Homo sapiens: one gene and its partners. The protein of the gene in region 4 purifies or fractionates together with the protein of the main gene of each other region. This does not show direct contact. Each region holds a gene or a part of one and is shown on either strand. Other genes may lie near its edges.

Region 1 (3,500 bases), about 18 Mb from region 4:
GATTAAAGAGGAAAGAAAGAAATGACAGTAATTAGGATTACATGCCAATCACAGCACTTTAATCACAGCAACACAAATCCCTGGACTTCATTTTTTTGTGATAAGTTCTGATTGAAATTAGAAAATATTAAAGTTAGAAAAATTAATGAGCACATTACCAACAGAACCAAATTTAATTTGACAATCTAATGGCCTCAATTTAGTCTCATTTTTTGAAACAAAGACATAAAAAGAAGTAAAAACACATAACCAAGTACAAAGGATTTAATCAGAAAATTATCCAATGGTGATGTATTTGAATTCAATTATGGTTACCCCCTACACAGATGTGAACTCATAGAGGAACTGAAATCCTTCCTACAAAGCTACACAGTGACTGTGACAATGGTGATGCACACCAGGCTACTGTTCAGAATGAGTTTATGGCCAGTAAACTGTGGTCAGGAAACTTACTGCAAAGTGGGGACTCATCTGTCCCATTGGGGCAGTCAAAGATGCCATCACACACTACACTCAGATTCACACAGATGTTATGGCCAAGACACTGCCATTGCCAACTAGGACAGCGAAAGGGCTGAGTAGGGCAGTCCTTCTCATCACTCATATCCCCGCAGTCATTGTCCCGATCACAGAGCCATGCCCTGTGGATGCAGTTTCCGTTGTCACAGTGGAAATATGATGAAGGGCAAGTCTTGGGGACACAGGCATTGTGCTCATCAGATCCATAGAGGCAGTCTGGATGCCCATCACATTCCCAGAAGTTCGGGATGCAGATACCATCTTCTTGGCACTGAAATTCATCTGAGTGGCACATACCAGGAGGCCTGGTTGCTAGAAGGAAAACATGGGGTAAATCGGCTTGTGAATGTAATTTGTGATCCCTTTTATAGTCTAGACTCAGAGGAAATGATTTTGGATCCAATAGTAGGTTTATAGTAACAACTATGACCAAATTAATATTTAAGGCTAAATGATATAGAGTCTTCTCCCACACTCTAGTACATAGAAATATTTCTTTGTGGCAGCTAGTGGCTCTGACAACAAACGAAGTACAGAACGCACAACTGCTGACTAGCAGATGAGTACCTGTGTCAAAAGAACATCCTGTTTCCTTTTCCTGTGTTTTTAATGTACTTCCAATTGCAGATTCAATAATAAAGTTTATCTATCTTTCTATGAAAGAATCACCAGAACATTACAATAGAGCTTAAATAGCTATGATTACTTTGAACTTCATGTGTTTCATATCATGTTTGGGTGTTATTATTTTCCCTCAGATGAACTATACCTAATGAAACCATCACACACTAACTAAAGATGATGGTAAATACTCAGTTCTTTGCAAACTTTCCACTATTCATCAAGCAATCCTGGAGAGATACGTAAGAACTGCTTCCCTATTTGACAAGGGTAAACCAAAACTCTCTACCAGGGATCTCACAAGGCAACAGCAAGCCAGCGGCAATTGACAGTTTAACCTCAGCTCATCACAGAATTTTATGTTTTTAATGTGAAACAGGAAAATTAGTGATTAGTAATTTCTAGATGTTGTGCAAACTATAAAGTATATAAGCATTTTATTTAACTTTTCTTTTTAATCCATGGCTTTACACACTACCTTTCTGACGCAGGAGGAGAATTCATGAAAACTTACTTTTTTGGTCTAAAACACCATTGTTCAAACAAATGATCAACTCACTGATGAGTTTTTGCAAGTCTAAAATCCATTTAAAACAAAAAGTGGGCAAATAACAAATCATGTGAGTATAGGTTTCCAGTCTGTGAAGATTATAGATCCATCAGAATTATACTGTATGAAGTCCTACTTGAATCCTCCAACTAGAAGAAATTTCTTTTCTCTGAACCTCCATAGAATTTTATCTGTGCCATTTCTAAGACCCTTGTAACTGTCTATCTTGCTTAATTGTCTCTTGCCTTCTATAATCTCCATAGATAACATCTTAGCAGATATTCAACACATAATAGCACAAAGAATGAATTCATCAGAGTCAATACTAAACACAGCTCCATACCATTTCTACACCATGATATGACTTCTCTACTGAAACTTAAAAGAAACCAGTAAAATATCTTTATATGGAGTAGAGCCTCAAAAGTTTAAACCTACTAAAGTGGGAAGTCCTAAGAAAAACTAAAAGTGAAAACAAAAATATCTAAGAAATATTTAGCCCATCTAAGAGACTATTTGAAGTGTCCATTTATACAACCACTTGATTTGTTAATTACACATTATATGGCAATGTCTACTCAATTTTACTGTATGTTCAATACCACATTCCTTTGAGGATACTTTCCCCCAGTTTGTCTGAGTTAGGGAAAATGTGTGGCAATATCAATATCAATACTGGCAAAAATGAAATGACCCCTTTGTCTGAAACATTCTGGGTATGTGTTACTTACGACAGCCTGCTTCATCCGAGTTGTCACTGCAATCAAAAACACCATCACAACGATTTGTGACGCCAATACATTTATCCCCACTGGCACACTTGAATTGAGAAGCAGTACAGTTTAATACTAAGAATGAAAGAGAAAAGCATTAGAAATTAGCTCAGGGCTAAAATGACTAAACACTGAGATTTTTCTTTTTTGTTGTTATACTTTAAGTTCTGGAGTACATATGCAGAACATGCAGGTTTGTTACATAGGTATACACGTGCCATGGTGGTTTGCTGCACCCATCAACCCATCATCTACATTAGGTATTTCTCCTAATGCCATCCCTTCTCTAGCTCCCCACCCCCCAACAGGCCCCGGTGTGTGATGTTCCCCTCCCTGTGTCCATGTGTTAACACTGAGATTTTTCTAAATAAACATTGTGAATAAAAAAGAAGGCAATGCACTTACCACAACCAACCTCATCAGATCCATCAACACAATCCTTGTCACCATCACAGACAAACGATAGGTCAATACATCGATGATTGGGGCAATTAAACTGACTAGGTTGGCATGTCTCTGTCGAATCTAATGTCATCCGAAAACAAAACCAACAAGTTTATTTCCTGTGCAACAAGTACCAGAGCCAAACTAAAAATGGCTAAATAGCTACAGAAGTTATCTCAATTGTACATGGGTTCAAAATTCTTTTGAATCAGCCACACTATCAAAGTCAGCTAAGCAAAAGAACTCAAAACTAGGATAGGTTTTAGAATTGAGAATAAAAAGATTACAGGGCAGAGTCAGAAACTGTGATTACACCTTGGAAAATAGACCACATTCAGAAAGTGAGCATCATGTGCTTGGACTTGGACTACATTTCATGAATACTATGAAGTCCATGACTCTAGACCAAAGCCAAGCAATGGAGCCCAATCAGGCAACAAAACCAGCATGACCCACATGCCTAGTAGCAACAGTGTGTAGACAGACCCCCAAAACTGGATTTAAAAGTCTGAACAGAACAATTCTAAAAACCAGGGTCCTACCTTACTGTTAAGACCATAGCCTTGGAGTCGGATGCAGTGGCTGGCCCCACC
Region 2 (4,233 bases), on a different chromosome or scaffold from region 4:
CGAAACAAGAAAAAAAAGGAGATTTTCTTCTTCTACCAAGGGCAAAGCATACTGCAATTTAAATTTTGGAAATATTTAATATGAAAAGCAAACAATTCAGGAAGATATGTTGAGTTCTCAGCTGGATAGGAGTTATTTTTTGAGCTTCATTATTATTTCACTTAACACATTTTTAACTGGGTAATCATTTTCTAGGCCATACAAGACACAAACAATTTGAAGAGATTTATCCGACAGGCAGAAATGAATCATTATGCTTTGTTTAAATGTTACATGTTCCTAAAGAACTGTGGTAGTGGAGATATACTTTTGAAGATTGTTAAAGTGGAACATGAAGAAATGCCTGAAGCCAAAAATGTGATAGCTGTCCTTGAAGAATTCATGAAAGAAGCTCTTGACCAAAGTTTTTGATCATATGTTTTGAGATAATTGTATGATCAAGTTGTATATTTAAGTCTTAGTGTTTGAAATTGCAGTTATAATTGTTCATAGGATTGCTATTTAAGATGATTTGAAACTCAATCCAGATTTTCTTTTTGTATTTTACCAATTTAACTTAAATAAAAATCTGAAGAACATCTTCACTGAGTCCTAGATAGATAATGTATGTGAGAGTTGTGAAATTTTAGTGTCTCACTGGCCCCATAAATTCCACGCTTCAGGAAGTTGTTGCTTAAAAAATTTCAGAGATGATTTTGTTTGTGGCTTTTCTCAGGAAAAGCCTGAGTTTGCTGCAGTATTTAGCAACTTTTCTTCTCAGAAAAACCATAATACTTCCTTTTCAGTGGACTGTAGCTTCTTAAAAAAAAAAATGTAATTCTAGTCTTAGAACAGATTAATACCACTACACCAGTTCAGAGATAGATCTGTGCATCCTGTGGGTGCTTGATACATTTTTTTGTCTAGTTGATAACGGCATGGATGATAAAGTCAGATTTTAAGTCAATATGCAAATCCTGAGTATGTAGAAAATTAAATGAGCTTTACAAATCGATGCACTAGCTTCAAGATAAAATATTATCTTTGAGCTGGGCGCAGTGGCTCAAGCCTGTAATCCCAGCACTTTGGGAGGCTGAGGCGGGCAGATCATGAGGTCAGGAGATCGAGACCATCCTGGCTAACACAGTGAAAGCCCGTCTCTACTAAAATACAAAAAATTAGCCGGGCATGGTGGCGGGCGCCTGTAGTCCCAGCTACTCTGGAGGCTGAGGCAGGAGAGTGGCGTGAACCCAGGAGGTGGAGCTTGCAGTGAGCCGAGATCGCGCCACTGCACTCCAGCCTGGGCGACAGAGCGAGACTCTGTCTCAAAAAAAAAAATAATTATCTCTGAGAGAAAGCTACTGCAGAAATCGCCTTCAGTCACCATTTCATTTATTTGTTCACAGGTATTTATGAAGAGCCTGTGTTTTCTTTTAGGTGAAAATGCTGGAGTTTTAAAACAGTGTTGAGAAAAGAAACAAAGTACATACAGTTTACAAGCAAACTGTAACATAAGGAATGCAAACAGTTTCTTCCTATTAGAGTTACTCATTGATTTTAGTTTTTTGTACATTTGTTACAAGCCTCAGATTGTTTTACTCTGAATCAATTGAAAGTGCCCTCAGCTAGCCATTTACAATTCCCATGGAAGCCTATGTAGCTACATACATACAATTGCAATTTGCTCGGGATAGCTCTTTAATAAATTCATTTGATAATGATTTTTGCTTAGAAGAACAGAAGTCTTGTGTTCTCACTTCCCTGAGGATGCTCAGAGGAGCACAAACCCATAAAACTGAGGAATCCTCTCTTAAATGGATCTAAATTCACATTAAGTGCTGAGTTTTAACTTTCAAAATGACTGACAATGGCCTTCTGCTTTCTCCTCTACATAAGCCTCGGGACATGACTCACATTTCTTTTCTTTTAATGAGAAATACAATTCAGAATCTTCATAAATGCTTTCATACGGTTTTAAACTTTAATAACTTGGAATGTAGGCAGTATAGAAAAAAATCTAAGTAGCATTTTTCATAGTATTAAAGTGAGAGTGGCTGGGCACGATGGCTCATGCCTGTAATCCCAGCACTTTGAGAGGCCGAGGCAGGTGGATCACCTGAGGTCAGGAGTTCCAGACCAGCCTGACCAATATGGTGAAACCCTGTCTCTACTAAAATTACAAAAATTAGCTGGGAACTGTGGCATGTGCCTGTAGTCCCAGCTACTTGGGAGGCTGAGGCAGGAGAATCGCTTGAACCCGGGAGGCAGAGATTGCGGTGAGCCGAGATCGCGCCACTGCATTCCAACCTGAGTGACAGAGCGAGACTCTGTCTCAAAAAAATAAAGTCAGGGTGACTAAGGAAAACCAGCAATTTTATGACACTGTCCTTGAATCTGACTGTCTTTTCCCAATGTAGTTGGTTCCCCACTTGGAAATCATTTTTTAAAGTAAGCTACATTAGCACATCAACGTTTTAAGTCTGAAAAAATACTTCATTTTCAAATTCATGTCATTCAAGAGTCTATGTTGTAAATGGCATTTAAAAGCAAATGTGTTACCTGCTTCAAATCATTTATGGATATAGGCAAGGTGTAATTACATATTCTCTGTGTGGTTGTATATATTTTTGTAATGTAGGCTCACTACATTACACAGCTCTATATGATAGTCTTATTTTATCTTTTTTTTTTTTTAATGAAATGGGGTCTCACTATGTTGCTCAGACTGGTCTTAAACTCTTGGACTCAAGCAATCCTCCCACCTTGGCCTCCCAAACTGAGCCACTGCACCCGGCCTCTGGTAGTCTTATTTTAAAAAAAGTAAGTCTGGGCTGGGTGTGGTGGCTCATGCCTGTAATCCCAGCACTTTGGGAGGCCTAGGCGGGCAGATCATGAGGTCAGGAGATCGAGACCATCCTGGCTAACACGGTGAAACCCCGTCTCTACTAAAAGTACAAAAAATTAGCCGGGCGTGGTGGCAGGCGTCTGTAGTTCCAGCTACTCGGGAGGCTGAGGCAGGAGAATGGCGTGAACCCGGGAGGCGGAGCTTGCAGTGAGTCGAGATCACACCACTGCACTCAAGCCTGGGCGACAGAGCGAGACTCCGTCTCAAAAAAAAAAAAAAAGTCTGACAAACTCTGTATCACTACTGTAGACAAGGAAAATGGTGTCATGGAACTGAATATCTTGGTCATGAGAAGAAACCACAGAGTTCATGACTAGAAACATGTACTGTATTCAAATTTTAATAAGCTACTATCTTGGCTTTTAAAGTTGTTTTTTTTTTTGTTTTTGTTTTATTTTTTAAGACAGAATCTCGCTCTGTCACCCAGGCTGGAGTGTGGTGGTGCAATCTTGGCTCACTGCAACCTCTGCCTCCCAGGTTCAAGTGATTCTCCTTCCTCAGCCTCCCCAGTAGCTGGGACTACAGGCATGTGCCACCATGCATGGCTAATTTTTTGTATTTTTAGTAGAGACGGGGTTTCACCGTGTTAGCCAGGATGGTCTCGATCTTCTCACCTTGTGATCCACCCGCCTTGGCCTCCCAAAGTGCCGGGATTACAGGCGTGAGCCACTGTGCCCAGCCAGCTTTTAAAGTTTTAAAAAGGATTTGTTCAGACATGGAATATATTTGTGTATATTACTTGTGTGCTGTACACACAGAGGAAATGTATGTTTGTCATGTATGAAGAATGGCTTCAGTTTCTCTGTAATTAATTTGTAATTATAATAATAAAACTTAGCTTCTCATCAAGACAGTTGTTTTTGTTTAATGAGCTCAGTCCTCAAGCCTAACATTTGTATTCCCAACAAGGTTGTGAGGAAATTATACTTGCTATACTAAGGAATTTGTTGAAGAAGATCAAATCACTTGCTGGGATACACACCTTTCTGCTTCTTGCAGGAGGCATCAAGCAGAATCTAAGAGCAATTTCCCTCACAATGTTTTATTCATTGTCCAGTAGAGTTATACTCATAGAACTCAATAACCCAAGTTACTTCCTTTCACTCTCATTCATTATTCACCATGACAGAATGCCTGTCCTCTACCAGAGGATCCCTTAGACCAGGTGCCAGGAAAGCCTGCGGGCTTCTTGGAAATAAGATGCAGTTACTAGGACCACACTTTCCTAACAGTGTGTCTTCTCACTTAATGGAAACCCTGCTGACTTCAATGAAGTCTTTCCACTTGGAGGTCTGAGAGGGCAGTCCAGTTCTCTTAATTGCTAAAGTTCCTAAATGTGGCTGGATGTG
Region 3 (3,500 bases), on a different chromosome or scaffold from region 4:
TTTTTTTTGTCTTCAATAATTTGCATCTTTGTGGGTGGGTTTGGGGATCTCAGTGACCTGAAGGCATTAGACTGCCGCTTTGCTTTTCAGATATGTACACGGTGCAGGGGGTGTGTTTATAGCTGATGAAGTTCAAGTGGGCTTTGGCAGAGTTGGGAAACATTTCTGGAGCTTCCAGATGTATGGTGAAGACTTTGTTCCAGACATCGTCACAATGGGAAAACCGATGGGCAACGGCCACCCGGTGGCATGTGTGGTAACAACCAAAGAAATTGCAGAAGCCTTCAGCAGCTCTGGGATGGAATATTTTAATACGGTACATTTTGGTCTCCAACTTTAATGCTAAGAAGGAAAAATAATGCATGTTCTTATATTTTTTGCCAATGTAGTAAAGAATAAAGCTCAGTATTGCCGGCTAACCACCCAGAACTCTGGCCAAAGTTTTTTCTTATTTTAATAAAACATCTTAAATACTTACATATATATATAAAATTATACTTTAAGTTCTGGGATACATGAGTAGAATGTGCAGGTTTGTTACATAGGTATACATGTGCCATGGTGGTTTGCTGCACCTATCAACCCGTCATCTAGATTTTAAGTCCCACATGCATTAGATATGGCCAAACTTTTATCTAACCAGATTTTATTCTGTCTGACAAAATGCTCCTTGTATTTCTGCTTGTGTATCTTTACCTGTCCTAAAACAGGCTTATTAATTTTTCCAATGATAGATGGTTGCCCTGCTAAATTCTACAGGTTATGATATTTTCATTTCTTTGTTTCATATCATACTTAAATTTCCAAAACACTTTTAAAGTATTTTTATGACTCAGTACTATAAATGTTATACAGCTGTCATAAGAGATACTAAATTTTTATCTTTGGGATATTATATTTTTTTGACTTATCCCCATAAGCTTTAAGCTTGGAAAAATTATTGTAGTTTGTTCAGTATATATAATACGACTTGTTACAGCTAAAAGTAAGATTCAAATCTGAGGACATAAATTGCTTGGGGAAAATGTCATTGCTTAGCTACTTTTACTCAGCTCTTCAAGGGCAGAAACCCCTATTTCCCTCACTGGGCAACACTATGAAATCCTGAACTCCCAACATAATGTCTGCTTTTGTTTGGATGAGCAAATAAAATCACTGGTAGTCCTTCATACCAGTTATGCAGCTTGGATAATATAATTTAGAATGAATTTTCACTCAGTCCTGAATATATAGAATCATGCTCTATTCTAAATATGAGAAACTAATATTATAAGAGAACATTTTATTTAAATTATATCTTCACTTATGTATGTATGAGCCAAATTTCTCATGGATGAGGGAATACCACTCATTCAACTGGTATATTTTCTCATTTGTCTTTTTTTTTTTTACAGTATGGAGGAAATCCAGTATCTTGTGCTGTTGGTTTGGCTGTCCTGGATATAATTGAAAATGAAGACCTTCAAGGAAATGCCAAGAGAGTAGGGAATTATCTCACTGAGTTACTGAAAAAACAGAAGGCTAAACACACTTTGATAGGAGATATTAGGTATGTTCATTATGAAGTTGTCATGTAGTTACTCATTTTTTTCAAAATAATAATAGTTTATAGGCTGGGCAACATGGTGAGACCCCGTCTCTATTAAAACTACAAAAAATTAGCCAGGTGTGGTGGCACACACAAATAGTCCCAGCTACTCGGGAGGCTGAGGCATGAGAATCACTTGAGCCTGGGAGGCAGAGGTTGCAGTGAGCCGAGATTGTGCCACTGCATTCCAGCCTGGGTGATAGGGTGAAATCCCGTCTCTAACAATAATAATAATAGTTTATATTTTATCTTGTAAGTTTATAATAAAGTACATAAAACTAAATCTGGAAAACACCAAAAAAGAGAGATAGCAAAAATTATTCTTATTCCAGAATCCAGATATCACCACTGTTAACATTTGGGTGGGGCCGGATGTGGTGGTTCACATCTGTAATCCCAGCACCTTGGGAGGCAGAGGCAGGAATATTGCTTGAGCCCAGGAGTTTGAGACCAGCCTGGGCAACATAACAAGAAACCTTGTTTCTATAAAATAAATAAATAAACCAACAACAATAAAAAAACATTTGGGTATATGTCTTTCCTGGCTTTTATACTTTTTTAATAAAGTTAGGATAATGTCAGCACCCAAAAGATGAAAAGAAGGAACTTAATGTAGCTCTAAATAATTTATTGAAAATTATTTAAAATGCTATTCTGAAAAGCTGGATATTTTTCATATATATGTATGAAATACTGACATATATATATATAATATATATATATATTATATATATATATATAATATATATATATATATTATATATATATATAATATATATATATATTATATATATATATATAATATATATATATATATTATATATATATATATATATATATAATGTTAACATTTATCATCATTAACATCCTGAGAAACTAAATAGCATGAAAGGGTTGTTTTTAAGCCATTTTCTTTTATAATTGAGAAAAGAAAACTGGATGACAAAAACTAATTTATTTCCAAAAGTAGAAACAACTGTGAACATAGATTGGTATCTTGATTTAGTTAGAATTAAACTTGGAAATTAAATGGAAGTTTGGTGATAGTGTTAACTTTTTGTGACAGTGAAGAGTTGGACAGATTGTGGGTCAAGTTTTTCTTCACCTCTCGCAGGGGCATTGGCCTTTTTATTGGAATTGATTTAGTGAAGGACCATCTGAAAAGGACCCCTGCCACAGCTGAAGCTCAGCACATCATCTACAAGTAATTCACCCCCACACCCACCTGTTTGGTATCTTGGCTGCAGGATGCCTACCCACTTGAAAGCTTGCTTGACTTCCTCCCATCCCTCTGAAAAAGGAAAGTTTAAATACATCCTATTTATAATGTGGGCTTCTTAAATGCAGAATACTTAAACTGCTCTATGTTCACATAATTCTTCAGTAATCGTAGTTATCCTTTGCATACACTCACATGTATTTCCTACACAAATTAGGATGAAAGAAAAACGAGTGCTTCTCAGTGCCGATGGACCTCATAGAAATGTACTTAAAATAAAACCACCTATGTGCTTCACTGAAGAAGATGCAAAGTTCATGGTGGACCAACTTGATAGGATTCTAACAGGTGGGTCCATGGATCTTTAAGATGTCTTCTTGTTCCCTCTCCCAAACCCACCCCTCAAACCCTGGTCTAGTCATAATGAGCATATGCATCTTGTTATTCATGATGGAAGTGAGGCAGGGCAGAAATAAATGTGTAACTTTCCATTTAGGACTAGAAAAAGATAGCTGAAAAGTAACTACATGGACTCTTAAATTGAAATTTTCAGTTTGTATTCATATAACTCCAAATATAAGTTTTTGCTGAAAGAACATAGTTTTGTCATTTATTTTTACTTTAGACTAGCATATTTAAAAGTGCATGTCTGCATTGTGCCATGGACCACAAATACTACAGTATATAGTATTT
Region 4 (2,977 bases):
TCAGAGAATATTCAGCTGGTTAAAATGTAAATTGGTTAGGTATGAGTCGACAGGCCTTATTAAAAAACAAACAAACAAACAAACAAACAAACACAAAAATGGCCGGGCACGGTGGCTCACGCCTGTAATCCTAGCACTTTGGGAGGCCGAGGCGGGTGGATCATGAGGTCAGAAGATTGAGAGCATCCTGGCTAACACAGTGAAACCCTGTCTCTACTAAAAATACAAAAAATTAGCCAGGCGTGGTGGCGGGTGCCTGTAGTCCCAGCTACTTGGGAGGCTGAGGCAGGAGAATGGCGTGAACCCGGGAGGCGGAGCTTGCAGTGAGCCGAGATCCTGCCACTGCACTCCAGCCTGGGCGACAGAGCGAGACTCACTCTCAAAAAAAAAGAAAAGAAAAGAAAAGAAAAGAAAATGTAAATTGGGAGTCAGCCAGGCAAGGTGGTTTATGCCTGAAATCCCAGCACTTTGGGAGGCTGAGGCAGGAGGACAGCTTGAATTCAGGACTTCAGGACCAGCCTAGGCAACATAGCAAAACCCCATCTCTACTAAAAATAAAAAATAAAAATTAGCCTTGTGCGGGAAAATCACTTGAGCCTAGGAGTTTGAGGCTGTAGTGAGCTGTGATGGCGCCCTTGCACTCCAGCCTGGGTGACAGAACAAGACCCTGTCTCAAAAAAAACAAAAAAAAAAAAAAAAAAAAGAAAAGAAAAAGAAATGTAAATTGGCACTGTAGGAATCTATTTTTTTTTAAAGTAGAATTACTGAGTAAAGACAGAGGTTTTAAAATGTTCATTGAAACGTTGAATAACAAAAGAAAAAAATCAGAATCAAATGCCTCAGAATGTTAAATATTAGTACATGACAAATTACAGTATATCCATACAGTGACCTATTAGGCAGTCATGAAAAAGAATTTGAATGATCTAAATATCATACTCTGACATGGAAATATGTCCATAGTTTCCACATATATAATGTTTGTATAATAGAAAAACATCTGGAAGGATGGTCACTACAGAGTTATCAAATGCCTTTCTGGGATGGAGAGGTGAGGAGAGTAGGCACATCCTTACTTTTATATCTCTTATTAATGTGGTAGGATTATGGACAATTTCAGGTTCTTTCTTTCTTTTTTTTTTTTTTTTTTGAGACAGAATATCACTCTGTCTCCCAGGCTGGAGAGCAGTGGCATGATCATGGCTCACTACAGCCTTGACCTCCCTGGACTGAGGTGATCCTCCTACCTCAGCCTCCCGAGTAGCTGGGACTACAGGTACGCATCAGGATGCCTGGCTAACTTTGTATTTTTAAATTTTTTTTGAAAGGGAATCTTACTTTGTTGCCCAGGCTAGCGTGCAGTGGAGCCATCTCAGCTAACTACAACCTCTGCCTCTCAGGTTCAAGTGATTTTCCTGCCTCAGCCTCCTGAGTAACTGGGATTACAGGCACGTGCCACCACACCGGGCTAATTTTTTGTGTTTTTAGTAAAGATGGGGTTTCACCATATTGGCCAGGCTGTCTTGAACTCCTGATCTTAAGTGATCCACCCGCCTTGGCCTCACAAAATGCTAGAATTACAGGTATGAGCCACTGTGCCCGGCTGACTTCTGTATTTTTTTGTAGAGACAGGGTTGCATCATGTTGCCCAGGCTGGTCCCAAACTCCTGAGGCTCACGCCTCTCACCTTGGCCTCCCAAAGTGCTAGGATTATAGGCACGAGCTACCATGCTTGGCCAATGTCTTTATTTTCTATTTTTGTTTTGTAATCTATACCCTGGGTTGAGTAAGCGTATATTTAAAAAGAAAACCAGATCAAAATGTTAATAGTATTATGCTTGATAGGATTTTTTTTTTTTTTGAGATGGGGTCTTGCTCTGTCACCCAGGCTGGAGTGCAGTGGCACAATCTCAGCTCACTGCAACCTCTGCCTCCCAGGTTCAAGCGATTCTCCTGCCTCAGCCTCCCAAGTGGCTGGGACTACAGGCGTGTGCCACTGCACCTGGCCAATTTTTTGTATTTTTAGTAGAGACGGAGTTTCACCGTGTTAGCCAGGATGGTCTCGATCTCTTGACCTGGTGATCCGCCCACCTCATCCTCCCAATGTGCTGGGATTACAGGCGTAAGCCACCACACCAGGCCTATGCTTGATAGGATTTTATGTTAACTGTATCTTATATCTTCTTTTTCTATTACTTTGTATCAATGTCCTCTTCCTGATTTTTTGCTAAATCTTTGGCTTTTTTGTTTTAACTATATTCTTTTCTGTTTCTTGATTTGTTTCTCTTTGAATGATAAATTGTGTGGGTTTTTTTTTTCCCAGTTTCTTGAAGTTGTGCCAATAAAACCCCACCACTGATTTGATTACATTTGGAGTAAGTTGTCTACTTTAGAGAAAAAAGGAAAATGTAAAATTTCAGACTTTTTTTTTTTTTTTTTTTTTGAGACGGAGTTTTGCTCTTGTTGCTCAGGCTGGAGTGCAATGGCGCTATCTTGGCTCACCACAACCTCTGCCTCCCGGGTTCAAGCAATTCTCCTGCCTCAGCCTCCCAAGTAGCTGGGATTACAGGCATGTGCCTCCACGCCTGGCTAATTTTGTATTTCTGGTAGAGACGGTGTTTCTCCATGTTGGTCAGGCTGGTCTCGAACTCCTGACCTCAGGTGATCGGCCTGCCTTGGCCTCCCAAAGTGCTGGGATTACAGACGTGAGCCACGGCACCTGGCCTAGGCTTCTTTTTAACTTCTTTGTTTAATAGGATTCTCATCCCCCAACTACCTCCTACAGCAATAAGATGTTTTCTTTCAACTTTCTGTTAATATAAAATATATTTTCAAGAAAGGAATGAGAGATAAGTAAACGGTTTAATTTAATAGGTTATCTTTCTTAAGGGAGTTTGTAACAGAATAATGAACTAACAAGGTTTAAGCATTAATCATTCGATAACAGAGCAGGAAGTTCCATCTGTTACAGTTATGA

The links. Proteins that work in one complex are often made in the same cells at the same time.
Region 1: the proteins of TNFAIP6 (region 4) and LRP2 purify together in Homo sapiens (affinity purification with mass spectrometry; one large-scale study listed by BioGRID and IntAct). This does not show direct contact.
Region 2: the proteins of TNFAIP6 (region 4) and C17orf75 purify together in Homo sapiens (affinity purification with mass spectrometry; one large-scale study listed by BioGRID and IntAct). This does not show direct contact.
Region 3: the proteins of TNFAIP6 (region 4) and ETNPPL purify together in Homo sapiens (affinity purification with mass spectrometry; one large-scale study listed by BioGRID and IntAct). This does not show direct contact.

The regions. Positions count from the first base shown.
Region 1 is NC_000002.12:169,240,535-169,244,034, forward strand, and holds part of LRP2 (low-density lipoprotein receptor-related protein 2 precursor), read right to left. Parts: intron 2,989-3,500; coding exon 2,869-2,988; intron 2,539-2,868; coding exon 2,422-2,538; intron 832-2,421; coding exon 454-831; intron 1-453. UniProt on the Homo sapiens protein: Multiligand endocytic receptor. Acts together with CUBN to mediate endocytosis of high-density lipoproteins. Mediates receptor-mediated uptake of polybasic drugs such as aprotinin, aminoglycosides and polymyxin B.
Region 2 is NC_000017.11:32,327,941-32,332,173, reverse strand, and holds the end of C17orf75 (protein Njmu-R1), read left to right. Parts: intron 1-195; coding exon 196-411; 3' UTR 412-3,733; downstream 3,734-4,233. UniProt on the Homo sapiens protein: As component of the WDR11 complex acts together with TBC1D23 to facilitate the golgin-mediated capture of vesicles generated using AP-1. May have a role in spermatogenesis.
Region 3 is NC_000004.12:108,746,054-108,749,553, reverse strand, and holds part of ETNPPL (ethanolamine-phosphate phospho-lyase), read left to right. Parts: intron 1-90; coding exon 91-316; intron 317-1,394; coding exon 1,395-1,549; intron 1,550-2,702; coding exon 2,703-2,792; intron 2,793-3,024; coding exon 3,025-3,155; intron 3,156-3,500. UniProt on the Homo sapiens protein: Catalyzes the pyridoxal-phosphate-dependent breakdown of phosphoethanolamine, converting it to ammonia, inorganic phosphate and acetaldehyde.
Region 4 is NC_000002.12:151,374,592-151,377,568, reverse strand, and holds part of TNFAIP6 (tumor necrosis factor-inducible gene 6 protein precursor), read right to left. Parts: intron 1-2,977. UniProt on the Homo sapiens protein: Major regulator of extracellular matrix organization during tissue remodeling. Catalyzes the transfer of a heavy chain (HC) from inter-alpha-inhibitor (I-alpha-I) complex to hyaluronan.